4 linked regions of the Homo sapiens genome follow. The protein of the gene in region 1 interacts with the protein of each later gene in a pairwise test. Each region holds a gene or a part of one and is shown in the gene's direction. Other genes may lie near its edges. The genes, in order: MRPL1, GOPC, VPS52 and PRPF6.

Region 1 (7,892 bases):
GTAACAAACCACTCCACAATTATTTATCATTGCCCACATATCTATGGGTCAGCTGACATAGGCTGGGTTTGATGGATATCTCTGATGACCTTGGCTGGACTTGTAGTGCATCTGTAAGTTTGCAGGTAAGCTGAGAATCATCTCATGTAGCCTGGGGCTCTGTGGAGGCAGCTCTGTTCCACATGTTTCTCATCCTTCTACCTTTGAGCTAGCCTAGGCATGTTCTTCTAATGAAAAGGCAGAAATGCAAACATGAAAGTAGAAACATGTGAAACTTCTTTTGGCCTAAGCATAGAGCAGGGAAACTGTCATCTTTGCTTTATTCTGTCAGCCAAAAGTAGTCACATGGACAAATAAAGGGGCTGGGAAATATACTCCTCTTTAGTGGGAGGAACAGCAAAGTCATTTAGCAAAGGGCTTGAATGGAAAGGAGGTAAAGAATTGGGACCAATGATACAATTGACCCATACTCAAACTTCATATCCCCCAAACTTGAACTAATCTCTGTGACTGCCTCCCTCACCAGAAACCTGTTTTGCCCTCTTTATTTCTGATCTTAGTTAATGATTCTATTCTATGCCTAGTCACCCAAGCTAGATACCTAGGAAGTATTTTGGAGTCTTTATTCTCTCCTTTTCCCATCTTCAATATTTACTTTTTTTTTTTTTTTTTTTGAGACAGGGTCTCACTCTGTCACCTACCTGGAGTGCACTGACATAATCAGCTCACTGCAGTCTCAGACTCCTGAGCTCAGGTGATCCTTCCAAATCAGCCTCCTAAGTAGCTGGGACCACAGGTGTGTACCACTATGCCCAGCTAATTTTTTTGATTTGGTAGAGGCAGGGTCTTGCTATATTGCCCAGGCTGGTCTTGAACTCCTGGCCTCAAACAGTCCTCCTGCCTTGGCCTCCCAAAGTGCTGGAATTGCAGGCGTGAGCCCTCGTGCTTGGCCCAGTATTTAGCTTGACAAGTATTCTCTAATCTGCCATCTTTTCCAGTCTTATTACTGTTGCTACTCTGGTTCAGGTTCTCATATCTCTGAGAAGAAAGGGCGGGAACAGACTCTTAATTGTTTTCAATCCTACTTCCTTCAGGTCTCTCTCTTATATTGCAGCCAGAATACCTTGCCTAAAATACAGATGTTACTCCTGTTTACTGACTTCTTATTGCCTCTAGAGGATGCCCCCCTATGCTCTGTCTTTTCTAACCTCATCTTCCACTCTTGCCTGCCTTCTCTTTTACCGTTTTAGTTCAGAAGTCAGCAAACTTTGGCGAGTCAGCCAATCTTGTTTACCGACTATATTTGCACTACAGTGGCAGCGTTGAGTCATTGCAGCAGAGAACATATGGCTCACAAAGCTAAAACATTTACTATCTGGTCCTTTACAGAAAAAGTTTGCCAACTCTGCTCTAGTCATGTAGAACTTATAATAGCTTCCTTCTTATACCATTTTATTTTGTGCCTCAGTACTTTTTATTACGTTGTTTCTTTACCTGGCTAACTCTATTATTTTTTAAATAATGGCTTTATTAAGGTATCATATAATTACATATCACACAATTCACCCATTTAAAGTGTACAGTTCATTGGTTGTTAGTATACTCACAGTTGTGCAGCCATCACTGTAATCAGTTTTAGAGCATTTTCATTGCTTTCCCAGAGAACCCCATGCCCATGAGCATTCACTTCTTGTTCCCCTAACCTCCTCTTCTAGCACTAGACAACCACCAGATCTACTTTTTAGTCTCTTAGGTTTGCTCATTCTTGATATTTGGTATAAATGGAATAATATGTGGGCTTTTGTGACTGGCTTCTTTCACTTAGCTTAATGTTTTTAGGGTTCATGCGTGTTGTAGCATTGATCAATATTTCATTCTTTTATTAATTGTTGATTAATATTCCATTATATGGACATACCACATTTTATGTATCCATTCATCAGTTGATAGACATTTGGGTTGTTTCTACTTTTTGGCTGTTATGAATAATGCTGCTAAGAACATTTGTGTACTAGATTTTGTGTCATATGTTTTCACTTCTTTGGGGTGCTAACACTTCCTTATCCATTAAGAATTGACTTTGAGGTCATTTCCTCTATAACTTTTCCCTAGCCTCCTAGGCTGGATTGAATGTCTTTTCTGTCAGGCTCTGATGATGCTCTTGTATTACTACATTATATTGAAATGACCTGTTAGTATGTCTTTCTGATCTACTCCTCTGTAAGTTTCTGGAGAGCAGCATCAGTGCGGTAATTCAACTTATTCATGACTTCAGACATTGGAAAAGTTCACTTCATGTTTGTTGAATTAGAAAAACTGTAAAGCAGTCTATGCTTTTGAATTAAAATATAATTCATCCTTTGTTTTTTTTTCTCTTATGTACACTGGCTTTTTTTTTAAAAAAAATCTCTTAGGATATATATTGATATAACTCAACTTTATTTTCTTTTAAGGTCTGCAAAGAAAACAAAAAAAGGTGCTAAAGAAAAAACACCAGATGAGAAAAAAGATGAAATAGAAAAAATAAAAGCATATCCCTATATGGAAGGCGAACCTGAGGATGATGTCTATTTAAAACGCTTATACCCGAGACAGATATATGAGGTGGAGAAAGCTGTTCACTTACTTAAGAAATTTCAAATTCTTGACTTTACTAGTCCAAAGCAAAGTGTTTATCTTGATTTGACACTGGATATGGCACTGGGAAAGAAGGTATGTAGAGTCCATTAAAATAAGTTTACCTGTGAACAGTGGCTGTATGAATTGGTGTTTCTTTATTTTATTTTATTGTTATTATTATTTTTGAGACAGGGTCTTCTTGCCGTGTTGCCCAGGCTGGAGTGCGGTGGTATGATCTCAGCTCACTGCAGACTCCACCTCCCGGGCTCAGGTGATCCTGCCACCTCAGCTTCCTGAGTAGCTGGGACTACAGGTGTGTTCTACCACGCCCAGCTAATTTTTGTACTTTTAGTACAGATGAGGTTTCCCCATTTTGCCCAGGCTGGTTTTGAACTCTGGGGCTCAAGCACTCTGCGCTCCTTGGCCTCCCAAAGTGCTGGGATTACATGCATGAGCCACTGTGCCTGGCCTCTTAATTTTAAAAATTATTGCCTCTCATAATTTTTAGAAAACTTCATGCTCTTTCTGTACTTTAGCATGAAAAATATGTTTGTTCATTTAAAAATTTTCCAAATATAAAATTTGTTGAAAACACTCTAGAGAGTTAACATAGATTTCCTATTTCCTCTAAGAGAGTCACTAGTATAAATTTCAACAAAAGTAGTGTTAAAATTAACGGAGGTATCACTGTAACTTTGAAAAGTGATTTAAACTGCCTAGGTGGCATGTTTCTTCTCTGTAAATGAGGGCTCTGGATTAGCTCAGTGTCCTTCAGATGTGTTCCTTGGGGTCGCACCACTGCACTCCAGCCTGGGCGACAGAGCAAGACTCCATCTCAAAAAAAAAAAAAAAAGAGAATTTGTCTCTCCTTGTCTATAAAGAAATCCCGAGGAGGATGTTTCTACTCAAAATAAGGTTTTTCTAAAAATATTGATCCTTCAATCAGTTTTATTAGGGGAACAACCACCTTTTCTTCCAAACCTTAAGGCTGCAACAAAACTTTGGAGGGCCTAGAACTTGTTTCTCTGTAAAATCTCCCTGAGAGATCTAGGCCTCAGGCCTCAATAGTTCCTGGTCAAAATGACTAGACAGATTAGTTTAGTGGTCCTGTAAAATCTCCACCTGTATTAGCGTGCCTCAAATGCATGCCATTGTTTATTTAGGATTTTCCAATTGACTTTCTAAATAAATCTGAAAGTGATGATGGTCTAGGTTGTTTCAAAAATAGAGTCACTCAGAAGATCCCTTTAGGCTCGACATTTTGTCTTGGGTTTAGGGTTTACAATTCCTGATAGTTTAGAGCCAATGATGGCAATTGGGGGTGACCTACTGGGCAGATCAGCTGGATATTGTCTATTGTTCAGCATGTACAGCTGTAGTCATGTCTCCCTGATGGTGTCAGAAGATTACATGGGTTTAAAACAAATTTAATTGAAGATAGCAAACATTTATTATACATCAGATGGAAAGCATTGTACTAGTGCTGGGGAAGATGTTGATATGCAAACACATTTCATAATATTTGAGAGACTGTGATGAATGATGTAGAGATAGAAGCCAAGTGGCATGGGATTATGAAGCTGGAAAAAGAGATTTTAGTTTTTTATTCTCAAAAAAATATAATCTTGAAAAAGTTTCTTGAAAAAAAAATAATCTGTTGTGCTTTAAATTGTAATCGATGAATAGTAATTCATGAATAGTAATCAATGAATAGTTCTGAATTAATGGAAGAACATAGAGTAGAATCAGAACACTGAAAACAAAACATGTCCGTTCTTGTTTTATATAGAGTGTGTGAAATAGAAAAGATTAACTTTACGTAATTATTTTTCCTTGTCATGTGTTTAGAAAAACGTGGAGCCATTTACCAGTGTTCTTAGTTTGCCATACCCATTTGCTTCCGAAATCAATAAAGTTGCTGTATTTACAGAGGTGAGTAACTTCCGTCAACTATTTATATCATTTAATTTTTTTTTTTGAGACGGAGTCTCACTCTGTCACCAGTCTGGAGTGCAGTGGGGCAACCTCGGCTCACTGCAACCTCCGCCTCCCAGGTTCAAGCGATTCTCCTGCCTCAGCCTCCCAAGTAGCTGGGACTACAGGTGTGCACCACCACGCCCAGCTAATTTTTGTATTTTTAGTAGAGACAGGTTTTCACCATGTTGGCCGGGGTAGTCTTGATCTCTTGACCTTGTGATCCGCCCGCCTCGGCCTCCCAAAGTGCTGGGATTACAGGTGTGAGCCACCATGTCCAGCCTCATCATTTAATTTTTTTTAGAGATCACAAATTAATCATTAATTATTAACCAATCATTAGCACCCTGAATAAATGGAGTTAGAGAAAATCCTAGCATTCACCTAGTCTTATTTTCCCCATTTGGAGCTCAAAACATTTAGATGATTTATTTGAGGTTATATTATTAGCTTGAGAAAGAGCTAAATTAGAACATTAGTTTCATCATTACTAGAATGCTACATTGTGTTTCTCACAAGAAACTGAAAAGTGGAATTTATCAATTTATCCTATTAACTGCTGCTTTCTGTTCAAACTTCTCTCCCCAGACAACAAGATTATTTTAAAGCAATGGAACCATTTAGTACTGTGGTGCCTTAGAAACCACAACTTTCAAAAGTATCTAGTCTTTATAAAACTGTCCTAAATAAATGTTTGTTTATAATGTGTTTATGATTTTTTTTTAATCATCCACAAACTATAATGGTTCTGAATGTAATATCCCTGATGCATTTAATTGAAAATTCATGCATTCAGTTCTTTTTTGAGACAGGGTCTTGGTCTGTTGTCCAGGCTGGAGTACAGTGGTGCAGTCATACTCACTATAGCCTCGGACTCCTGGGCTGAAGCGATTCTCCTGCCTCAGCCTACTGAGTAGCTGGAACTGCGGGTGCTAGCCACTATATGGCAGGCTAATTTTTTTTTTTCTTTGAGATGGAGTCTTGCTCTTGTTGCCCAGGCTGGAATGCAATGGCGTGATCTTGGCTTACCGCAACCTCTGCCTCCTGGGTTCAAGTGATTCTCTTGCCTCAGCCTCCCGAGTAGCTGCGATTACAGGCATGCACCACCACACCTGGCTAATTTTGTATTTTTAGTAGAGACGGGGTTTCTCCACGTTGGTCAGGCTGGTCTCGAGCTCCTGACCTTAGGTGACTGCCTGCCTTGGCCTCTCAAAGTGCTGAGATTACAGGCGTGAGCCACCATACCCAGCCTGGCAGGCTAATTTTTAATATTTTTTTGTAGAGATCGGGGATCTCACTTTGTTGCCCAGGCTGGTCTAGAACTCCTGGCTTCAAGTGATCCTCTTGACTCAGCCTGCCAAAATGTTGGGATTACAGGTGTGGCTCACTGCACCTGGTTTGCATTTTCTTTTTTTTTTTTTTTTTTTTTGAGATGGAGTCTCACTCTGCCACCCAGGCTGGAGTGCAGTGGTGTGATCTCAGCTTACTGCATCCTCCCCCTCCTGGGTTCAAGGATTCTTCTGCCTCAGCCTCCTGAGTAGCTGGGACTTACAGGTGTGTGCCACCACGTCCGGCCAATTTTTATATTTTTAGTAGAGACAGTTTTGCCATGTTGGCCAGGCTAGTCTTGAACTCCTGACCTCGGGAACTATCCGCCTCAGCCTCCCAAACTTCTGGGATTACCAGTGAGAGCCACTGCATCCAGCCACATTTTCAATTAAAAATAAAAGCTACAATTTGTACTTTGAACTGTGATATTATTTCTGACAACATACTTCAAAGCAGACTGAATATATTTAAAATTAATGATTGATTTTCAAATTATTGTGTTTTGGTAGAATGCATCAGAGGTCAAAATAGCGGAAGAAAATGGAGCTGCATTTGCAGGAGGCACTAGTCTGATACAGAAGGTACAGTGTTGTTTTCATGTTCATTAAGTATAGAGATGATTCTGTTATCTTTACCATTCATTGATCTGTTATATGTGGAACACTAGTCTCATATCTTATGATAAATAGTTAATAGGTCTTTATAAGAGCAGGAAAAAAATTTCCAACTTTCTTCAGTTTCAAAATCAAGCTAGGAGAAAACTATCCAGACAGTCTGATTTTGTGTGTTTGTGTTTATTTGGGGTGTGTGTGTGTGTGTGTTTGTCTGTGTTTGAGACAAGGTCTCTCTCTGTTGTCCAGACTAGAAGATGGTGGTGCAATTATGGCTCACTGCAGCCTTGAACTCCTGAGCTCAAGCAATCCTCCTGCCTCAGCCTTCTGAGTAGCTGGGACTAAAGGTGCATGCCACTGCACTCGGCTAATTTTTTTGTAGAGATAGGGTTCTTGTTTGTTGCCCAGGCTGGTCTTGAACTCTTGGCATCAAGCAATCCTCCTGCCTTGGCCTCCCAAAGTACTGGGGTTACAGGTGTGAGCCACCACACCCAACCTCAGACAGTCTGATATTGATTATACTTGAATTATTATTGTGATTATTATTATTATTACTATTTTTCGCTTCTTTTTTGTCTGAGAGTTTTGTGGATAGATAGGAAAGGGCAGTGTGACTCTGGTTTTGAATGTAAGGTTTAAAATGAAATCCACAAGGTCGCATGGATTTCATTGATACCCATGGACACCTCTATTCATGTTTTGAAGATCAAATATTTGTTTTTTTTCTTGGAGTGAAGGTGTAATTCACTTAGTAGATTATAAAGTATGGTATCTGCCCTCTATAATGTTGGTGCTTTTGGTTCCTCTTAACTTTTAGCTTCTAATCCTTTCAGAATGGCATAGACTCAGTATGGTAGCAACAAGTGATTATGTAGCCTGCCTTTAGAAGGTAACAGAGCTTCGCTGGACGCAGTGGCTCATGCCTGTAATCTCAGCACTTTGGGAGGCTGAGGTGGGCAGATCACTTGAGGCCAGGAGTTTGGGACCAGCCTGGCCAACACGGTGAATCCCCACCTCTACTAAAAATACAAAAATTAGCCAGGCGTGGTGGCACATGCCTGTAATCCTAGCTACTTGGGAGGCTGAGGCACAAGAATCTCTTGAACCCAGGAGGCGGAGTTTGCAGTGAGCCGAGATTGCGCCTACACTCCAGCCTAGGCAACAGAGCGAGACTCTGTCTCCAAAAAAATAAATAAATAAAATAAATAAACAAACAAATAAATAAGAAAATAACAGAGCTTGGAGAGCCTCTTTGAAAATGAGAACTTTTTTTTTCCTTTTTAGGAAGTAGGAAGAAGAGGCATGGAGTTATTTCTGAAAATATAAAAGATTTTTCTTAGGGTTCTCTCTAAAAGTTCC
Region 2 (6,763 bases), on another chromosome or scaffold:
TACAATTACAATAACTTGACTTTCTCATTTTCATTTCCTGTTTTAGAGAGGAGAGATTGAATTTGAAGTAGTTTATGTGGCTCCTGAAGTGGATTCTGATGATGAAAACGTAGAGTATGAAGATGAGAGTGGACATCGTTACCGTTTGTACCTTGATGAGTTAGAAGGAGGTGGTAACCCTGGTGCTAGTTGCAAAGACACAAGTGGGGAAATCAAAGTATTACAAGGTAAAAATCACTCTAAAAATTATTATTAACATATTCATTATTATTAAATGTTTAAAATGTGAAGGCCTCAGAATTTCTTCAGTAAAACTGTTTTGTGAGGAAATCAAAGGAATGAAGAGCTTTCCCTTGTTTATTGTTTTATTGTATACTATGCTAACAGTTTATTTACCATATATGTTCTTCTATATTCATCTTGGACTGTTAAGACAAGTACATTACCAGTTACTCTACTGCAAGTGATCCTTGAAAAATAAATAAAATTTTTTCTAGACTCTGAAACAAAGACCAATATACTATTTTGAGTAGATCTATCTTGTAGACTACATTGTCTGTCTGTCTTGATGCAAATTCATCTCTCACAATGAATTTTAAGCTAATTATGAATAAGTATGAAGTATACTGTCACCTTATGATTGCTATTAGAATCAACTTATATTATCTTGGGGATGTTTGGTTTAGTTCCTTTGCTATCATTTAGACATATTTTAAGGAAAAACTCTAGCACTTCCTTTTACATAGAGCAGTGGTCCTCAAATTGTGATCTGTGGATCTCTGAGGGTCTCTGAGATATTTTAGCAGAGTTCATGAGGTCAAAGCTTTTCATAATAATACTAAGACATCATTTGTCTTTTTTTGCTATGTTGATATTTGCACTGATGGTATCTGGTTGATGCAAAAGCAATTGGGGTAAAACTGCTGGTGCCTTAGCACTAATCAAGGCAGTGTTGCTAATACTAGTAACTGTACTAGTAATCATTGTTTTCTTCCTTGCCATCCATTCATAGTAAAAGAAGAAGATACCAATTTTGCTTAAAAATATCTTTGATGAAATGGCAGTAACAGTTAATTTTTAAATATTGACCTTTGAGTACCTGTCTTTTTAATATTCTTTGTGATGAGATGGGAAGTATGCATAAAGCACTTACTCTGCACACTGAACAAAGATGCTGGTTTCAAGGGAAAGTACATAAGTGACTGAACTAGCCATTTTTCTTCATGGAAGACAATTTTTACTTGAATGAATGACTAACAAAGTATGGATTTTCGGACTATTTGGAAGCCATTTTCTTAAAAATGAACAAAGTCCATCACTTCAGGAAAGACAACTGATAATATTTATTGCCAGTGATAAAATGTGAGCTCTCAAGTGAAAGTTAGAACTTTGTAAAACATACGTTGATCACCATGAGCTTGACAGCTTCCTAACACTTAAGCTTTTCTGATGAGATTGATGATGATATTAATGAATGTGATTTTTTGATACAGTAAAGTGAAATGTGTCAACTTTTGGAATTGCTACATAACTTCATGGTCCAATATTTTTCAAATCACCAGTAAATGAAGTTATAAAATTTTGCATGGGAAAAGATCCATTCAAAATGCAAGATAGGCAAATGGATTTTAATATAACAGAGTGTGAAAAGTTCACTGATAAGGTTTCAAATTCCACATTGTCAAATTTTTGTATAATATCAGAGAACAATACTGACAGTTATCTGAAAAGGCTGTTAAAATACTCTTCCATTTAGCAACTACATATCTGTGTGAGGCTGAACTTTCTTCATATACTTGTAATAGATTGAATGGAAGCAGATATATGAAAATACAGCTATCATCTACAAAGCCATTGAAGAGATTTGTAAAATTGTAAAATAATGCTACTCTTCTAACTAGAATTTTTTTGTTTGGAACATAGAGTTATTTGTCATTAGACAAATGTTATTTATATTAACCTTCTGGATTTATTGTCATTTTTAACAAAGAAATGAATTTTTTTTTAGATTTTTCAATTTTACCTACTAATATGGGAAACATCAGTAGCTATAATCCACATAAACAGAAGCTTCTTGGAGTCCTCAATGCTTAGTATAAAGGCCTCCTGAGACCAAAATGTTGAACTCCTGGCATGGAGTTTTATGGTGAACTGATAAACTGTTGCACTTTTGATAAACTTGTGTGTTGTAAACTGTCTGCACAAAGATAGCAGTAGCAGTTACTGTTTTCACTGTGCATCTTGAGCAAAACTATTGTGGCAGTATGTCAAAACCTTAATTGTTGGGCTGCTCTCCATATGGTTTCATTGTATTTCACACTTGCTGTTTTCTGTCGGGATTAGAAAGCCTGTCTCTTCCTTTTTTTTGTAACTGAGGCTAGAAGTCTTCTCTGTCACATATGCAAATTGCAGACACTTAAAATGTGACTCAACTAAAAATTTGTGTGTATATATCTTTTAACTGACTCACTTAAAAAAATGTATCTATTGGTTATTGTTTCACACGTCTATACTTTATAGATATATATATCACCTAAATAGGTGATATAGTCAACACTTATTTATTTATAAGCCTATTATTTATTTTATAGATGATCAGAATTCGTTTTAAGTTTTAGCTAGACATCATCTTGCCAACAAATTACATTTTAAGCAATTAACTAGTATATGCCTCAGTTAACTGAAGTTAATGTAATATGAAAGCAACAATGAAAAATAAAAATATAATTCACAGTTCAGTAGATATTTATATAAGTAGAATTGACTGAATTTTACAATTATATGTATTACTTCTAAGTCTTACAGACAGCTTGATGGTGGCTCATGCCTGTAATTCAAGCACTTTGGGAGGCCAAGGCAGGAGGATCGCTTGAGGCCAGGAGTTACCAACCTGGGCAACATAGTGAACCCTGTCTCTTCAAAAAAATTTTTAAAATATAGCTGGACATGGTGGCACATGCTTGTAGCTCCAGCTACTCAGGAGGCTGAGGTGGAAGGATTGCTTGAGCCTAGGAGGTCAAGGCAGCAGTGAGCCGTAATCATGCCACTGCAATCCAGCCTGGGCAATAGAGTGAGACCCTGTCTCAGAAAAAAAAAAGAAAAAAAAAAAAGGAAAGGAAAACTTGATAGGAAACTTAATACAATTTTTACATAAGCCCAATATAGTATTTTTAAATCTGTACAATATTTGATACCTGCCATAAGAGGGAAGAATTCCCCTGTTAGGAATTACTGATTTGATTAATATAAGGCATTATTTTTGCCTCAGATTACTAATGTTAATTACTTGGGCATTCCTTTGTTTTTCACTCAATAAACTTATACAACTAACTTTTTTTTTTTTTTTAATTTTTTTAATCGAGACAGAGTTTCACTCTGTCACCCAGGCTAGAGTGCGGTGGTACGATCTCAGCTCACTGCAACCTCCACTTCCTGGCTTCAAGTGATTCTCCTTCCTCAGTCTCCCAAATAGCTGGGATTACAGGCATGTGCCACCATGCCCGGCGAATTTTTGTATTTTTAATAGAGACGGGGTTTCACCACATTGTCCAGGCTGGTCTCGAACCCCTAACCTCAGGTTATCCACCCACCTTGGCCTCTCAAAGTGCTGGGATTACAGGTATGAGCCACTGCACCTGACCAAAACCAACTTTTTAAACCAGAAAGTGTCTGCTTTTTTTTTCTCCTTTCTTTCAGGATTTAATAAGAAGGCAGTAACTGACACACATGAAAATGGAGACCTGGGCACTGCAAGTGAAACTCCGCTAGATGACGGTGCTTCAAAATTAGATGATCTGCACACTCTGTATCATAAAAAATCTTATTAAATTGACCATATCTCCAGACAAGATTGTTAATCAGACTATTCTGAATTTGGGGCACTGGGGAAGATGGTGACAAAGACTACAAAATCAGGGGAGGCTGTTTGTTGCCTAAATGAAAGGCGGGTACCTCAGGGCTTCATGTGAACAATTCTCAATGCATAAAACACCCTGTTTTCTGTGGTAGACCATAATTAGCTATTGCATGTAAAGCAATTTTGATTTTCTTGAACTTGTAAGCACCAAAGCATGTGTTTCCCAAAGGGGTATTACTGGGCTCTTAAGTACCAAATGAAACCCTACTGTTTTACTTGGTTCCTTTTCCCTTTAGTAGGAGGACAGTGCTAACTGGAATTTTATAAGGAGTACCCTTTAAAATACAGAGAGTAAGTGAATTCATATTTTATATTCTAGAATGTTAACTGTGGTATTTCAGAAGACAGAGCTTGACTCAATGAATTGTAGAAATATAGGCTTGACTTAATTTTTGTAACTGAAAGGCTTTAGACTTAAAAAAATTTATTGTGCATCCTAAAATCTAAACCAATTATTAATGATCATTTATTGTAATGAGTTTGCATTTCAGCTTTATTCAATGCAGTACAAAATAGTTTTCTTTAAGCAGTCTTTTATCAATCAATGCTGCACTAGAAATAGATTCTCAAAAGTTACTAAACATTTTACTTTTTTTGTTTTTTAAAAGAAATGCAGATGAGTGTAAAACATCTGTTCTCAATTATGTTGATCTGTGTGCGCAGTACTGGAGCATTTACCCATTCATGTTGAGCCTCAAATGCTTGTTTTCTGGGGTCCACAAAAGACAGTTTTATACATTTTGAGTTGTTCATAAAGTTTGTCTTGTGATAGTCCTGGCACTTAAAGACAAATTTTTCTGGTAGTAAAAGTTCAGATTTATTACTATGTCATGAAACACAGTACATTCAAATCAAACGGCAGTTTTCTTTCTAAGTAAATGATTTCCAGTCATCTAAAAGGTGGGCAAGATGAGATAAAGACATTTTGATACAGTAATTGTTTTGGTTGGGTTTTCATGTCAGTTTATGTTTGACTAAAGCTCTCTTCATATGCAGGTTTATAAATTTGTTAGGTCTGTTGTCCCATGATTAAACATGGAGTGCCTCCTCTCTGATTTAATATTCTGCAGGTCATTGTAACCTGCTAGGCAAAGTCACAACATTGCATTAAAGAGGTGATAGCTTTGCTAATATCACTGTTTTAAAGGACGTACAGTTAAAGGAATATTAAGTGGGAGAAAGCCTACAAGGCTTTTAGAATATTATCAGTATCTTCATTTCTGGTATTCAGATGTTATGTGATAAAACACATTTTTTTTGGCTTTCCCAGATACACTATATATTTGTTCAAGGGTAAATCTATAAAATGTATATACTTTATTTTGTGGTTTTGCTATTTATAAATTTAATGTTTTAACTGTTGCTCATTTATGGTTTGTTTTGGGTGGTGGTGTTCATCTGTATATCACCATGTTAATTTGTAATGGAAGTGCACTTCGTAGTGTATATTGTTACTGACATTAAAATACTTTATAGCATTGTCTCTGAGCAAAAGCTAGTATTTAATTGTACAAATGAATAAGCAAGTTACATGTTATTGTTTGCTCTTGACAGGGTAGGCCTCTTAAAAGAAAAAAAACAACTTGTTTTTTCTTTATGAATCCCCTATGCCAAACACATACCTTCCATGCATGACATGAGATCTGCAAACTGGATTTTAGCCACCGTATTTATTTAGTCAAAAAAATTGTCCATTGTAGCAGACCCGAAAACCTTTTTGCTGTGACATGAAACCATGTTATTCTTATCTTCTTAAAACACAGCCTGGGATGGAATGGCCATGGCATTTTTTTCAGAGAACATCCTTTATCTGCTATGACTGAATCCTTAGGAAATGTAAGCTATAACCCTTTGATTTTCAAGAACTACCGAATAAGTGTATGAAGAGGTGGTTTTTTAAAACTTCAAGTTGGAATTTTTATGAGGTCACTGTGTAATTTGAAGAATTGTGTGAGATTGTCATGATATAAATTCCTTTTAAGGACTGATAAATAGAATGAAAAGTTTCCAGGTAGTTTAAAACTCCACAGGTCAGTTTCCTTTTCATTCCTGCTTCACTGTGGTTTATAAGCCTACGGGAGAGCACCGTTGCTCAGATGCTACTGTGAGCTTCCTGTCCGGTGTTAGAAAGTAACTAGTTAAAAGTTCATTTTAGAATGTATGGTTTTTGGGGATGAACTAAGAATTAGTTATTAGTTCCAAAGGACTGAGAACCAATTTTAATATTTTCACATTTATAGGAAAGAAATTCATATGTCCCTGAAACTTCTAGGACAAAACCAAACAAGTAAGGAGGGAACTGTTGCAAAGCCATTTCATCGAGAAGGGGACAGAAGGAGAAATACACACATGTATACACAAACAGAATGGTTGAGAAAACGTTTTAATAAAATGTGAGGGTTGTATGTGTGCGTGTATATATTTACACTTAACCTCTAAAATTCTCTTCTACAGTATCTCTGTTATGAATATGATGGAAAAGCAACATTTTGGTGGTGAGACTATTGTTAAAATAAATTTGAGAAAGACGAAAATTTTGTGAGTCTTGATAATTACAAGTCAACAGCTATCGAAAGTTAGCACAGCTTGTCTGTGGTGCTGTTTTTTTCCCCACTGCAGTGGACTTATGCTGTTTTCATGTTTAGAAACAAAAAGGTTTCATGTGATTCATGTGTAAGATGCACAGTATTTGACATCCTGATTATGTAATCCCTATTCCATCTATCCAGTCTTACACTTATGGTTGGCCTCAAATCTATTGCATTTATGATAATGTATTATATCTAGTTGAGTTTAATATTTTTTTATTAGCCTGTAAATAAAGATGGCATCTTCTACATTAAAATG
Region 3 (7,261 bases), on another chromosome or scaffold:
CTGAGATCCGGACACTGCAGGAACAGTCAGGAGCCATGAACATTCGACTTCGAAATCGCCAGGCAGTTCGGGGGAAACTTGGGGAGCTTGTTGATGGTCTGGTGGTGCCTTCTGCTCTGGTCACGTGAGTTACCAGTTTGAAGGGTTATAATGTCCATAGCAGGTGGATGGGCTGGGGTGACCCACCCTATTTACCATATGGGTCTCCTGGCTCCAGGTTAAGTGCTTTTTAGAAATTAGTAGCCAGGTTAACCACCATTTCTTTAGGTATGCATTAGGCATCAAAGATTAAGATTAAGAATGATGTAAGATCAGGTGTATAGTGGGGAGGTCCAGGAATAGAAAACTTTGTACATGTGTCCTGACTATATGGTACAATGCAAGGTGGTAGAGATGACAGGGGCTGGAGGTAAGGAGTGTGGTCTGGGTCTGGTTTAGGGATGTCTGGGTCTCCCTTGTAACTCATCCCACCCCTCCCTGCTAACCAGGGCAATTCTGGAGGCTCCAGTGACAGAGCCCAGGTTCTTGGAGCAGCTACAGGAGCTGGATGCCAAGGCAGCCGCAGTCAGAGAGCAGGAAGCTAGAGGCACAGCAGCCTGCGCAGATGTCAGAGGCGTGCTCGATCGGCTCCGGGTCAAGGTGGGAAGTAGGGATGGATACCCTGGAGGCTACTGGAAGCAGCCTTCCCAAGATCTTCACTATGGATTTCCTTGGCAGAGCTCACTGTAGCCTGTCTCCAGGGACTTCACCCTGCCTTTTCTGGGCAGCCCCATTCTTGTCTCTCTGGGTTTCCCTGAAAATCTTGAGAAATACCAAAGAGATATTCACCACCCTTCTGCCTATGTTTACCATTTGTTGCTTCCCCCAGTTCCTCTCATACAGCAAAAGGGTTGCAGCTTCATGCCCTGTGTTTGGTTCCCCACATCTAGGCAGTGACGAAGATCCGAGAGTTTATCCTCCAGAAGATTTATTCCTTCAGGAAACCCATGACCAACTATCAGATCCCCCAGACGGCCCTGCTGAAGTACAGGTCACAACCCCAAGGAAGTGCATGGGATGGCCTTTGAGTTTTTGAGCGGCCTAGTGTGGGCATCTGGTTTCTTGGGAGACAGGTAGACTGACATGTTCCTGACCCCCTAGGTTCTTCTATCAGTTTCTGCTGGGCAATGAACGAGCAACAGCAAAGGAGATCAGGGATGAATATGTGGAGACGCTGAGCAAGATTTACCTGTCTTACTACCGCTCTTACCTGGGGCGGCTCATGAAGGTGCAGGTAAGGTCAGGAGGGAGAGGTATTCCTGGGCACATGGACTGGGAGGAGGGGACATCCCTGGGCAAGGAATATTTTATTGTGTTGTGGGAAGAGACGGTTATCAGTTCTCTTTTCTCTTTCCTTAGTATGAGGAAGTCGCTGAGAAAGATGATCTAATGGGTGTGGAAGATACAGCAAAGAAAGATATCCTAGTACTGGGGAACCCTCATGCCAGGCCTTGAGAGTGGGAGGACTTTCGACTCCAGCCACCAATGCACTGCTCCTTACCTTTTCCTATGGGACTGAAACCTTTTAGAATGTGATGAAAGCTATAGCCTCCCTCCCCAGAAAGATGCACACATTATTTTGACACATAGTTTTGCATATGATTGCAAGGGAGGGAGAGACACCCTGAAGCCCATTCACAGATGTCAGCACGTGGGGCCCTAGTACTGGGAAAGAGGGCTGGCTAGGCCACGTCTGCCTGTCTGGGGTCCCCACAGATAGTGAGTCTTTGGGCCCAGTTATGGTCTCATTGTTTTCCCTGACTCTGACCCATCTTACGATTCTTCTCAAAGCCATCGCTCCGCAGCAGGAACACCATTTTCACCCTAGGAACCCGCGGCTCTGTCATCTCCCCCACTGAACTTGAGGCCCCCATCCTGGTGCCTCACACAGCGCAGCGCGGAGAGCAGAGGGTATGAGGAGGAACAAGCTTCAGTCACGAAAGAGGCTCTGAGCACGGTGGGGAGGGAAGGCCAGACCTCAGGGCAGAGCTTCCCAACCTGCAGGCCCTGTCTTAATCCCCTTAGACTTGGGAGTGGCCTTCTCCAATCACTCCAGCCTGCTGTGATGTGAAAAGAGCTGGGAACCATTGACTTAAGGGCATGCAGAGGGGAGAGACTGGATGAGGGGAATGACAGTCAGAGGCAGGTGTTGAGGTGGATGCAGGAGTAGCAACAGCAGGTGGGTGTAGGCCCTTTTTGTACCCCTATGTTCCCCCACCTTTTCAGTGCCCATTCAGCTTGCTCTTAGACAGCCCGGACCTAGATAGATGCGAAGGGTCTGCCTAGCTCTTATTACTCAGGTTTACTGATTTTCCAGCCATATCCATGGGAAGTCAGTGTTGGGGTCCATCCCTTCTGTTTTTCTTCTTTACTCCTCCTCTCCCAGTATCCATTTGAGGCCCTCTTCCGCAGCCAGCACTACGCCCTCCTAGACAATTCCTGCCGCGAATACCTTTTCATCTGTGAATTTTTTGTTGTGTCTGGCCCAGCTGCACACGACCTGTTCCATGCTGTCATGGGCCGTACACTCAGCATGACCCTGGTAAGACTCCTGTTTCCTGTACCATTCAACACCTTTGTCCCCAGTCTTCATCAGCAGCATAGTGGGGTCATGACTCTGGTAGAACTGAAATCAGGATCGCCTCATTCTAAAATGTCTAAGCCTTGGCTGGGCGTGGTAGTGCACACCCATAATCCCAGCACTTTGGGAGTCCAAGGCAGTAGGATTGCCTGAGCTCAGGAGTTTGAGACCAGCCTGGGCAACAACCTCATCTCTACAAAAAATGAAAAATTAGCCGGGTGTGTGTTGATGTGTGCCTGTGGTCACAGCTACTAAAGATGCTGAGGTGGAAGGATTGCTTGAGCCCAGGAGGTCAAGGCTGCAGTGAGCCATGCACTCCAGAGTGAGACCTGTCTCAAAAAAAAAAAAAAAAAAAAATAGCCAGGTGCAGTGGCTTACGCCTGTAATCCCAGCACTTTGGGAGGCTGAGGCGGGAGGATCACAAGGTCAGGAGTTTGAGACCAGCCTGACCAACATGATGAAACCCTGTCTCTACTAACAGTACAAAAATTAGCCAGGTGTGCGCGGCCTGTAATCCCAGCTACTCGGGAGGCTGAGGCAGGAGGATTGCTTGAACCTGGGAGGAGGAGATTGCAGTGAGCCAAGATTGCGCCATTGCACTCCAGCCTGGGTGACAGAGCGAGACTCCATCTCAAAAAAAAAACTTGTTACTTAGACTTGTCACAGTGTTACTCCCCCATGAAATCCTCAGTGCGTAGGGTCCCTGAGACTACCCCTACTGCTGACCCACAATCAGGCAATAGCACGTGAAAACTGAGGGTCCCCCAAATCTTGGTGCTCAAACCCCTGACCCAAGCTCAGCCCTGAACTCTGCTGTGATAGGCTTGTGATCATAGATCCTGGTGTGGCCAGGTGCAGTGGCTTATGCCTGCAATCCCAGTACTTTGGGAGACCAAGGCAGGAAGGTTGCTTGAGGCCAGGAGTTCGAGACCAGCCTGGGCAATGCGGCAAGACCTTGTCTCTACAAAAAATTTAAAAATAAACTTAACCAGGCATGGTGGTACACACCCATGGTCCCAGTTGCTTGGCAGGCTGAGGTGGGAACATCACTTGAGCCCAGATGTTTGAGGCTGCAGTGAACTATGATTGTACCATTACAATCCAGCCTAGGTGACAAAACAACCTGTCTCTAAAGCCGAAAACACCGGGTGCAGTGGCTCACACCTGTAATCCCAGCACTTTAGGAGGCTGAGGTGGGCGGATCGCCTGAGGTCAGGAGTTCGAGACCAGCTTGACCAACATGATGAAACCCCATCTCTACTAAAATACAAAAATTAGTCGGGCGTGGTGGCAGGCGCCTATAATTCCAGCTACTCAGGAGGCTGAGGCAGGAGAATTGCTTGAACCTGGGAGGCAGGCGGAGGTTGCAGTGAGCCGAGATTGTGCCACTGCATTCCAGCTTGGGTGGCAAGAGTGAAACTCTATCTCAAAAAACAAAAAAAAAGCCAAAAACATAGATCCTGGACAGGAAAGCAGGGGGCAGTTCCATTTTACGTCTCTCCCTTCTGTCCTGTCCAGTGCATCATCCCCAAAGAAACAAATGCGTTTGTTCATAGTCACTGAGGACAACAAACTGACATTCTCTTTTAATCCTCTGTTTGTTCCCCAATCACACAGAAACACCTGGATTCTTATCTAGCTGACTGCTACGATGCCATTGCTGTTTTTCTCTGTATCCACATTGTTCTCCGGTTCCGTAACATTGCAGCAAAGAGGGATGTTCCTGCCCTGGACAGGTCACTGAATTCTGGTCCTTGATGCCCAACAGGCCACGAACTCTCTTGGTCTTGCATGACTCTGCCCTGACCTTAGACTCCTACTGACCTGGTATCATCAACCTTTATTCCCATTCATTTGCTCCGGAGGCAGTAGTGCTGCTTTTTGACTCACCTTTCTCCAACCACTGCCCCCCAACCCCCACAACTAGCTATTGACCATTAAACTGAATGATGCCCCACTCCCTCCCATCCCCCTCCAACATTCCTTGCTGGCTGACCTCTGATTCTGATTAAGCCCACAGGTACTGGGAACAGGTGCTTGCCTTGCTATGGCCACGGTTTGAACTGATCCTGGAGATGAATGTTCAGAGCGTCCGAAGCACTGACCCCCAGCGCCTAGGGGGGTTGGATACTCGGCCCCACTATGTGAGGGAGGGCAAGGGTAACAAAGGGTTCTTGAAAGGCAGGGCTCTAAGCATCATTGTGGGGGTTGGCCAAGGTCACAGTTGTGTCATGGGCCACGCTATGAGCAGGTGTTCTGGGAGGGTGGTGAAACTCATGGTGAGTGGTGCACTGTGGGTAGGAGGGACTGAAGGTAGAGTCACATCACATGGAGGTGGGTTGGCTAAGGAAGTTGGGAGGTTGTGTTGGTTGGGCCAGGAGGTGGGTGTGATTTTCCTTCCCACTCTCTCCTAGATCACACGCCGCTATGCAGAGTTCTCCTCCGCTCTTGTCAGTATCAACCAGACAATTCCTAATGAACGGACCATGCAATTGCTGGGACAGCTGCAGGTGAGGGTCGGACAGGAGACACTTCCCAGCAGCAGGGCTGCTTCCAGTGGGTGGAGTCTGAGGAGGAGCCAGATGGGGCCCAGATGACCTTGCTTTCTGGTGTCACCTCTTCCTCTCTGCCTTTTCAGGTGGAGGTGGAGAATTTTGTCCTCCGAGTGGCAGCTGAGTTCTCCTCAAGGAAGGAGCAGCTTGTGTTTCTGATCAACAACTATGACATGATGCTGGGTGTGCTGATGGTAATAGGTGCTCCTTCTCCTTGCCTTCCTACCCAGAAAATTCGGTTTCCCCCACTGCTGTTAGCTCTGTGAGGGCAGAGATGATGCCTGTCTTGTTCAGTGTTTTACTCTTGGAGTCTGGCACAGTGTCCAGCTTAGTACAATAAGTGTGGAATGAAGGGGACATCCTGAAGTGAAGGACTGCTTTCCCCAAACTAGACATTTCCCTTTGTCTTCCCTTAGGAGCGGGCTGCAGATGACAGCAAAGAGGTTGAGAGCTTCCAGCAGCTGCTCAATGCTCGGACACAGGTAGGGGTGTGGGGAAAAGGGAAGAGACAGCCTTCTGTGCTGTTTTCAGCTCTCTCTCTCTCTCTCTCTGTGTGTGTGTGTGTGTGTGTGTGTGTGTGTAGGGAGTGGCATAATGGATCTCAGGTATGCGGAATTACTGTAACTCTTGATTCACAACATACTGTCATTATTGGTCTATTTTATTTTATTTTGTCTTTGGTTTTTTTTTTTTTTTTTTTTTGAGGCAAAGTGTCACTCTGTCACCCAGGCTGGAGTGCAGTGGCATGAACATGGCTCACTGCAGCCTCAACAGCCTGGGCTTAAGTGATCCTTCTACCTTAGCCCCCTGGGTAGCTGGGACCACAGGTGCGAGCCACCATGCCTAGCTAATTTTTTATTTTTAGAATGAATTTTATTTTTTTCTTTATCTATCCTCTCAAGCATTTATCCTTTGTGTTATAAACAATCCGATTACACTAAGTTATTTTAAAATGTACAATTAAGTTATAATTGACTATAGTCACCCTGTTGTGCTGTCAAATAGTAGGTCTTATTTATTCTTCCTATTTTTGTTTGTACCCATTAATCATCCCCACCTTCTCCCCAGCCTTCCACTAGCCTTCCCAGCCTCTGGTAGCCATCCTTCTACTCTCTTCGTACATGAGTACATGAGTTCAATTGTTTTGATTTTTAGATTCCACGAATCAGTGAGAACACATGACGTTTGTCTTTCTGTGCCTGGCTTATTTCACTTAATATAATAATTTCCAATTCTATGCATGTTGTTGCAAATGACTGAGTCTCATTCTTTTTTATGGCTGAGTAGTACTCCATTGTGTATATATCCCACATTTTCTTTACCCATTCATCTGTTGATGGACACTTAGGTTGCTTCCAAATCTTAGCTATTGTGAACAATACTGCAACAAACATGGGAGTGCAAATATCTCTTCAATGTACTGATTTCCTTTCTTTTGGGTATATACCCAGCAGTGGGATTGCTGAATCATATGGTAGCTCTACTTTTAGTTTTTTGAGCAACCTTCAAACTGTTCTCCAAAGTGTTTGTACTAATCTACATTCCCACCAACAGTGTATAAGGGTTCCCTTTTCTCCACATCCTTGCCAGCATTGCTATTGCCTGTCTTTTGGATAAAAGCCATTCTGACTGGAGTGAGATGAGATCTCATTGTAGTTTTGATTTGTATTTCTCTGATAATAGTGATGGTGAGCCCCTTTTCATATATGTCTGTTTGCCATTTGTATTCTTTTGAAAAATATCTATTCAAATCTTTTGCCCATTTTTTAATAGGATTATTAGACTGTCATGTAGAGTTGTTTGAGCCCCTTATATATTCTGGTTATTAATCCCTTGGCAGATGGGATGTGCAAATATTCTTTGTCTCTTCACTTTATTGTTTCTTTAGCTGTGCAGAAGCTTTTTTTTTTTTTTTTTTTTTTTTTGAGATGGAGTTTTGTTCTTGTTGTCCAGGCTGGAGTGCGATGGTGCGATCTCAGCTCACCGCAACCTCCGCCTCCCAGGTTCAAGCAATTTTCCTGCCTCAGCCTCCTGAGTAGCTGTGATTACAGGCATGTGCCACCATGCCTGGCTAATTTTGTATTTTTAG
Region 4 (7,892 bases), on another chromosome or scaffold:
GTGAACCTGGGAGGTGGAGCTTGCAGTGAGCCGAGATTGCACAACTGCACTCCAGCCTGGGCGACAGAGCGAGACTCCATCTCAAAAAAAAAAAAAAAATAGATCTTTTTCCATACAGAAGAAATTTGTTATTATCACAAGGTGTTGTCTGAGTGAAATGAAGGCTGTTTTCCTTCTCCTTCTGACTGCTCTCTCAGGGTTGTGGGAGGGGCACCAGGGACCCTCTGAGAACTTTGTTTTGCACCTGGTCATGTCCAGCTGACTCTTAGCTTGGCCTGTCTCACAGGTGTCTGACTCCGTGAGTGGACAGACCGTCGTTGACCCCAAAGGCTACCTGACGGATTTAAATTCCATGATCCCGACACACGGAGGAGACATCAAGTGAGTGCTTTGCAGAATCGCTGGGCTGGGATGGAGACTCTAGTTGCCTAGGGTATTTTGGATTTTATATGGACAGTATGCTGTCAAAATGGGACATGGCGGTTCTAAGAAATGTAAAGTGGAGTAGTTTGTTTTTTCCATTTGAAATGTATCTGTATCCATTCATTGCGTACACTCAATGTGTTACATATGATACTGCAAAGTCCCTGCCTGTGCTGGGCAGGAAAGCAGCTGGCTGTGTCCCACATGTCCCATCTGGACCTTCGGTTCTCAGCGTTTGTCTGCGGGGAGGCTACAGAGGCTTGGAATAGTGCGCACTGAGGTTTTGAGTTGGTTTTTGTAACTCAGGACATCAGGACTGATAGTTCTTACATTGTGACTGTGAAGTGGGTGCCCTCATCCCAGGTCTCGGGTGCACCCCTGACAGCATGGCCTGATGCCGTGTGCACTCTCCCTCTCATAGTGATATCAAGAAGGCGCGACTGCTCCTCAAGTCTGTTCGGGAGACGAACCCTCATCACCCGCCAGCCTGGATTGCATCAGCCCGCCTGGAAGAAGTCACTGGGAAGCTACAAGTAGCTCGGAACCTTATCATGAAGGGGACGGAGATGTGCCCCAAGGTGAGGTATTTCCTGGGAGGCGTTTCCTGGGAGGCTGCGTGATTGTGGCCCCTACGGGAGTAAACTTGTTAGAGCAAATCTCTTTGTCTTTTGGTATTGAAACTACAGACAATAGGGCAGGCTGGGGGAGGATGTGAAAAGCAGCCAAGGGCTTTTTCCTGCTTGTTTTCATGTGGAGTGAAGGCTAATCCACCACTTTTTTTTTTTTTGGAGACGGAGTCTCGCTCTGTCACCCAGGCTGGAGTGCAGTGGCACGATCTCGGCTCACCGCAAGCTCCACCTGCCAGGTTCACACCATTGTCCTGTCTCAGCCTCCAGAGTAGCTGGCACTATAGGCGCCCGCCACCATGCCTGAATCCACCACGCCTGAATCCACCACTGGTTTGACGGCAGGCTAAGCTTCATTATAAAGAGCTCAGTTGGTCAGCTCTTCACCCGCCTAATGGTGGCCAGTCACGGTGGCTCACGCCTGTAATCCCAGCACTTTGGGAGGCTGAGGCGGGTGGATCACTTGAGGTCAGGAGTTAGAAACCAGCCTGGCCAACATGGCGAAACCCCGTCTCTACTAAAAATATGAAAGTTAGCCAGGCGTCGTGACAGGTGCCCATAATCCCAGCTATTCGGTAGGTGGAGGTTGCAGTGAGCTGAGATTGCACCATGCTGCTCCAGCCTGGGCGACAGAGCGAGATTCCGTCTCAAAAAAAAAAAAAAAAACAACAAAAAAGAACGACCCGAGCAGATGTGCAGTCTCTGCTTTGTCCATGGAGTTGTCCTGAAGGAAATCATGCTCTTTTCACAAAGTGGTGTTTCATTTTTTTTTTTTCTTTTTTTTTGAGTCTCGCTCTGTTGCCCAGGCTGAAGTACAGTGGCGTGATCTCAGCTCACTGCAACCTCTGCCTCCCGGGTTCAAGCAATTCTCCTGCCTCAGCCTCCTGAGTACCTGGGATTATAGGCACCTGCCACCACACCCGGCTAATTTTTGTAGTTTTAGTAGAGACAGGGTTTTGCCATGTTGGCCAGGCTGGTCTCAAACTCCTGACCTCATGATCCACCTGCCTCGGCCTCCCAAAGGGCTGGGATTACAGGCGTGAGCCACCGCGCCCGGCCATTAGGTGTTCTTCAGTCAGACATATGGTAGCCATGTTCCCAAGTGTGGTTATAAGGGGGCGACTCCTGGTGCAGGTGTGTTAGAGGCTGAGCTAATTGGCTTTCGTAAATTCTGGGGCCCGAGGATCTGCTCTGGAGATCTGTGCCTGCTGCCCTGTTGCGGCTTCCAGCCTGCACTGAGCCTTATTGGTCTTATCTCTTGCCTCACAGAGTGAAGATGTCTGGCTGGAAGCAGCCAGGTTGCAGCCTGGGGACACAGCCAAGGCCGTGGTAGCCCAAGCTGTCCGTCATCTCCCACAGTCTGTCAGGATTTACATCAGAGCCGCAGAGCTGGAAACGGACATTCGTGCAAAGAAGCGGGTTCTTCGGAAAGGTGAGCCTCCCTCGGAGGTGCTGCTTTCTCCCTCCTTGGGGCCCCTCCTCTCAGCAGCTTTCCTGCTCCTGGCTCAGGCTTTTGGTGAGAGTGGATAAGGAACCAGGGACATTTTTCAGGCCTTTTCTCAGGCTGGGTTGCCTCTGCCCTTGGACCCCCATGGGGGAGGGATACTGTGGTGGGCAAGTTCCCATCCTGGAAGGGATGCTTGGGTTGAGCCCTCACTCCTGCCTTTTTCCAGTGTGTGATCTTGGATGCTTGGGCGGTCACTCTGGTCCAGGCTTCCCTCATCTGCAGGGTGAGAACAACGGTAGCTCAAAGCCTGTGTCCTGGGGCTCTGGAGATGGTCTGTGTGAAGAGCTGAGCCGGCACCTGGCACGTGCAGACCCGTTGTGGGTGTTACTCATTTTCTCTCCTGAGAAGGCACCAGAGCCACACGTTGATTGAACTCTTTCCTGCTGCTGACGAGGCTGTGCCTTCTGCTCCCGCGATGCAGCGTGTGCCGTCAGCTCAGGTCAGATAACGACAGACGGTGTGCCTACCAGGCAACCTGATTCCATCCAGGGATTCCTGCCAGGGTAGAGCTTTTGTGGGTAGTTTGTTTATTTTTATTACTGTGGATTCATAAAAGGAGCACTGTTTCTCCTGTCACTGGAAGTGTGTAGTAGATGCTGCTCTTGAACTGGGTCCAGAACGAGTGCTAGTCAGGGGGCTGTTCTGAAGCTAATCTGTGCAGGTGGCTTCTTTTTTTTCATTTTTTGTTTTTTTTTTCTGGTTTTTTTTTTTTTTTTTTTTTTGAGATGGAGTCTCGCCCTGTCGCCCAGGCTGGAGTGCAGTGGCGTGATCTCGGCTCACTGCAAGCTCCGCCTCCCGGGTTCACACCATTCTCCTGCCTCAGCCTCCTGAGTAGCTGGGACTACAGGCGCCTGCCACCACGCCTGGCTAATTTCTTTTTGTATTTTTAGTAGAGATGGGGTTTCACTGTGTTATCCAGGATGGTCTCGATCTCTTGGCCTTGTGATCTGCCTGCCTCGGCCTCCCAAAGTGCTGGGATTCCAGGCGTGAGCCACTGCACCTGGCCTATGCAGGTGGCTTCTATCCATTTTTTTTTTTTTAGACAGAGTCTCGCTTTGTCGCCCAGGCTGGAGTACAGGGGCACGATCTTGGCTCACTGCAGCCTCTGCCTCCCGGGTTCAAGTGATTCTCCTGCCTCAGCCTCCCGAGTAGCCGGGATTACAGGTGTGCGCCTCCATGCCTGGCCAATTTTTGTATTTTTAGTAGAGATGGGGTTTCCCCATGTTGGCCGGGCTGGTCTCAAACTCCTGACCACAAGTGATCCTCCTGCCTTGGCCTCCCAAAGTGCAGGGATTACAGGCGTGAGCCCCTGTGCCTGGCCTTTTCTTTTCTTTTTTTTTTTTTTTTGAGATGGAGTCTCACTTTGTCCCCCAGGCTGGAGTGCAATGGCACCATCTTGGCTCACTGCAACCTCCGCCTCCTGGGTTTAAGCAATCCTCTTGCCTCAGCCTTCTGAGGAGCTGGGACTACAGGCACCTGCCACCACGCCTGCTTAATTTTTGTATTTTTAGTAGAGACGGGGTTTCACTGTGTTGACCAGGCTGGTCTTGAACTTCTCACCTCAAGTGATCCACCCACCTCGACCTCCCAAAGTGCTGGGATTACAGGCGTGAGCCACTGTGCCCGGCCAGATTTTTTTTTTTTTTTTGAGACAGCGTCTTGCTCTGTCACCCAGGCTGGAGTGCAGTGGCACGATCTTGGCTCACTGCAGCCACCACCTCCCAGGCTCAGGCGATCCTCCCAGCTTAGCCTCCCAAGTAGCTGGGAGTATAGGTCCCACCCCCATGCCCAGCTATTTTTAATTTTTGGTAGAGATGGGATCTTGCTGTGTTGTCCAAGCTTGTCTCAAACTCCCATCCTCAAGTGATCCTCCTGCCTTGATCTCCCAGAGAGCTGGGATTACAGGCATCAGCCGTCGCATCCAGCCTATTCTTCCTGAATTTATAGCCTAGGAAAAATAAAGTGTATTTTATGGAATCAAGGGCAGTTTTCAGTGAGAGCTTTCCAGCTCTTGTTTTTCCAAATGTCTTTAAGCGAAATATCCCATTGAGGCTTCTGTGCTGATAGGACCGTGCAGATGAGGGCTCTTTGGTAGAAAGCCCCTTATCAAATATAGTTTCATTCACTTACTGTCTACGTCTGTTAGAAGACAGGTGAAGGCTGCTTGCCTGTGATGCATGTTCCCCCGACCCTGTGCACTCACATGTGAACGTGCTTTCCTCTGTCGAGGCTGGTTTCTTGACCGCAGCCCAGCTGCTCAGTGAATGCTCAGAGACAGCCTCTTTTATTTTTTTTTATTGAGACAGAGTCTCGCTCTGTCGCCCAGCCTGGAGTGCAGTGGCACGACCTCGGCTCTCTGCAAGCTCCGCCTCCCAGGTTCACGCCATTCTCCTGCCTCAGCCCCCCAAGTAGCTGGGACTACAGGCGCCCGCCACCAGGCCTGGCTAATTTTTTTTTGTATTTTTATTAGAGATGGGGTTTCACCATGTTAGCCAGGATGGTCTTGATCTCCTGACCTCATGATCCACCCGCCTCGGCCTCTCAAAGTGCTGGGATTACAGGCGTGAGCCACCGCGCCCGGCCAGAGACAGCGTCTTATAATGAGGTGGCCAGGAACAGAAAGTTAGCACCTGTCTGGGTTTGTAGAAATCAGTTTATCTTTTTTCAGCTAGGAAGAAATAGTTCTTTGATGAAGAGCCCATGAAAGTCTGGGTAATTAGTATTGTTTACTTAGAAAAGCTCTATTGAATTCTTCCTGCCACAGTTTGATGAATGATCATGAATGTCTTTGTGGCCACTCCCTGCTCACCACCAGATTGTCTGGGTTCATTTCCAGTTGGTTTGGATTTGGAGATGGGAGTATGCTGTTGGAGGCGGGGGCCTTCGGGGAGTGTTGAGGGACTGTGTTTCCACGGCTGTTCTCTCAGGGAGTGGCCTCCTGGCTGTGCTCTCTCAGGCAGAGAAGCTGGGCTAAGGTGGAATGAACCCAGGATCTCCAGGATGGCCTTTGCCGCTGCCCTAATACTGGTCCTGGCCTGCCCTTTCCCAAGAGTGTTTCCAAAAACTGTATTCTTTTCCTGGGGTGAAGCCCAGCACTGCTTCATTTGGTTATTAGCAAACACTTACACGTTGCTTGAAGGGTCTGGTTTTTGAAATTAAGATGACAGCTACTTCCACTGGTGACTTAGGACACCTGCCAGCCAGGGAGCCTGGCAGTGCATGGTCTCTGTGAGCTCTGGGTCGCTGTTGGGCTGAGCTGACACCTTAGTCCTTTGTTGGGAGAATGGGCGTTTTGGGTGCTGATCTTGAGACCTGAGGAGGCTGAGTAACCTTAGGCATGGTGCTTGGCCTCTGAGCTTCCATGTCTTCCTCTGTAAAAGGGAAGAGGGCTTTCAGGATTGGGGAGGGTGCAGCATGTGAGCTTCCTGGCCAGGGTGGGGTGTCCCACGTGCAGAGTCCCCTGGGGAGGCCCGACTGGCAGCTCCCCTACAATAATGCACTCACATGCTGTGTACTCCGCTAGTTAATGCAGATGTGTGGAAGTGGAGTTATTTTACACTAACGCCATATGCTCTGGCCTGTGAAGCGTGGCATCCTTCAGTGGCCGTCGCCAGCGTGTCCCTCTGGGGGCACAGGAATGGCACAGTTCAGGTTGAGGGTCTTCCCTGCAGTCACGTGACCCCCGGAGAGCATGTTGGCCTCTGCACGGTCACGTCTTCATGGCTGTGTCTAGCATTCAGAATACTCTTCTGTTCTAGGCCAACTTCAGGGGTGTGTGCTTCCTCCACTTCTGCTCATAAAGTCACACTCCTTGAAGGCCATTGTATCATGGTGTGCCATGTGGCTTCCGAAAGCACCTGGGGAAGGTGACCTTGTTGGTTTTAGTGCCATGCCTGTGGGCTGCTGATGAGATGCCATGGAGATATGTCAGCTCTCTCCCAAAACTTGAAGACACAGAGTCCTGGGAGTCGTAAGTTAATGACTCCATAAATTGAGTCCCGCATGAATATTCTGTTCTTTAGAGACGCGAAGTTCATCTCCACCAATGTACAAAGTATTAAGGGAAGTAGTTCATATTTAGACAAATAGAGCACTCATCTCCCACGCAGTCGAGGTGAGAGCGCACAGGAAAAACAACTGGGTCGTTCTGTGTCTTCTCTCTATGCCTAGTCGCCTGGTTGGAGGTTAGGACTTTCCTTCTTTACTGCTGTGCCCTCTGCTGTCACCCTGCTTGGTCAGGGTTCTTGACCTGGATGAGTAACCCAAATCTTTTTTTTGTTTTAGACAGAGCCTCGTCCTATTGCCCAGGCTGGAGAGCAGTGTTGCAATCAGCTCACTGCAGCCTCAACCTCCTGGGCTGTAGTGATCCTCCTGCTTCTGGCTCTTGAGTAGCTGGGACCATAGGTACATACTACCATGCCTAAATAATTTTTATTTTGAGACAGGATCTTGCTCTGTTGCCTAGGCTGGAGTGCAGTGGCATGATCATGGGTCACTGAAGCCTCAACCTCCCAGACTCAAACTATCCTCCAGTCTCAGCTTCCTGAATAGCTGGGACTCCAGGGACATACCACCATGCCTGGCTGAGTTTTTAATTTTTCAAAGAGACGAGGTCTCCCTGTGTCATCCAGGCTGGTTTTAAACTCCTGGGCTCAAGTGATCCTCCCACCTCAGTCTCCCAAAATGCTGGGACTGCAGATGGGGGCCACTGTGCTCAGCCAGGACCCATATCTTTATCCCCAAAGGGTCTGACTTGTTGGTAGTTTTGCTTTTTTGGTGGCTGTAGTTCCCATTAACTTTTACTGGTAAAAGCAGAAATACTAAACTGTTTTTAGGACTGGCCTCTAGATAGTCTCCCACAGTGGGTGGCAGCAACTCAGTCTCGCTTTGGGAGTCAGGGTTAGCCTCTCCAGCCAGGGCTGGTACATGAGGAGGCCAGAGGGAGCTGTGGTCTGCACCCTGGTTGGCACATACTCCCTTTGGAGTAGCTCGTAGCTTGCTCTTTTTTTTTTTTTTTTTTGAGACTGAGTCTTGCTCTGTTGCCCAGGCTAGAGTGCAGTGGCGCAATCTCGGCTCACTGCAACCTCCGCCTCCTGGGTTCAAGGAATTCTCTTGCCTCAGCCTCCCAAGTAGATGGGATTACAGGCACCTGCCACCACACCCGACTAATTTTTGTATTTTTAATAGAGATGGGGTTTGGTTTCACTGTGTTGGCCAGGCTGGTCTCGAACTCCTGACCTCATGATCCACCCGCTTCAGCTTCCCAAAGTGCTGGGATTACAAATGTGAGCCACCACACCCGGCCTTTGGACCAGCTCTCTTGACAGGAGGGTCCA

Evidence for each region.
Region 2: the proteins of MRPL1 (region 1) and GOPC interact in binary tests that used the Homo sapiens proteins (3 or more experiments, as listed by UniProt).
Region 3: the proteins of MRPL1 (region 1) and VPS52 interact in binary tests that used the Homo sapiens proteins (3 or more experiments, as listed by UniProt).
Region 4: the proteins of MRPL1 (region 1) and PRPF6 interact in a two-hybrid assay, tested with the Homo sapiens proteins (one large-scale study listed by BioGRID).

What each region holds. Positions count from the first base shown.
Region 1 is NC_000004.12:77,880,789-77,888,680, forward strand, and holds part of MRPL1 (large ribosomal subunit protein uL1m precursor), read left to right. Parts: intron 1-2,453; coding exon 2,454-2,712; intron 2,713-4,467; coding exon 4,468-4,551; intron 4,552-6,431; coding exon 6,432-6,503; intron 6,504-7,892.
Region 2 is NC_000006.12:117,560,318-117,567,080, reverse strand, and holds part of GOPC (Golgi-associated PDZ and coiled-coil motif-containing protein), read left to right. Parts: intron 1-46; coding exon 47-227; intron 228-3,696; coding exon 3,697-3,827; 3' UTR 3,828-6,763.
Region 3 is NC_000006.12:33,261,877-33,269,137, reverse strand, and holds part of VPS52 (vacuolar protein sorting-associated protein 52 homolog), read left to right. Parts: coding exon 1-124; intron 125-488; coding exon 489-639; intron 640-929; coding exon 930-1,030; intron 1,031-1,140; coding exon 1,141-1,273; intron 1,274-1,398; coding exon 1,399-1,456; intron 1,457-1,816; coding exon 1,817-1,950; intron 1,951-2,064; coding exon of another isoform or gene 2,065-2,130; exon of another isoform or gene 2,131-2,406; intron 2,407-2,425; coding exon 2,426-2,581; intron 2,582-4,237; coding exon 4,238-4,356; intron 4,357-4,640; coding exon 4,641-4,764; intron 4,765-5,034; coding exon 5,035-5,130; intron 5,131-5,258; coding exon 5,259-5,366; intron 5,367-5,588; coding exon 5,589-5,654; intron 5,655-7,261. UniProt on the Homo sapiens protein: Acts as a component of the GARP complex that is involved in retrograde transport from early and late endosomes to the trans-Golgi network (TGN).
Region 4 is NC_000020.11:63,998,759-64,006,650, forward strand, and holds part of PRPF6 (pre-mRNA-processing factor 6), read left to right. Parts: intron 1-286; coding exon 287-381; intron 382-844; coding exon 845-1,001; intron 1,002-2,318; coding exon 2,319-2,481; intron 2,482-7,892. UniProt on the Homo sapiens protein: Involved in pre-mRNA splicing as component of the U4/U6-U5 tri-snRNP complex, one of the building blocks of the spliceosome.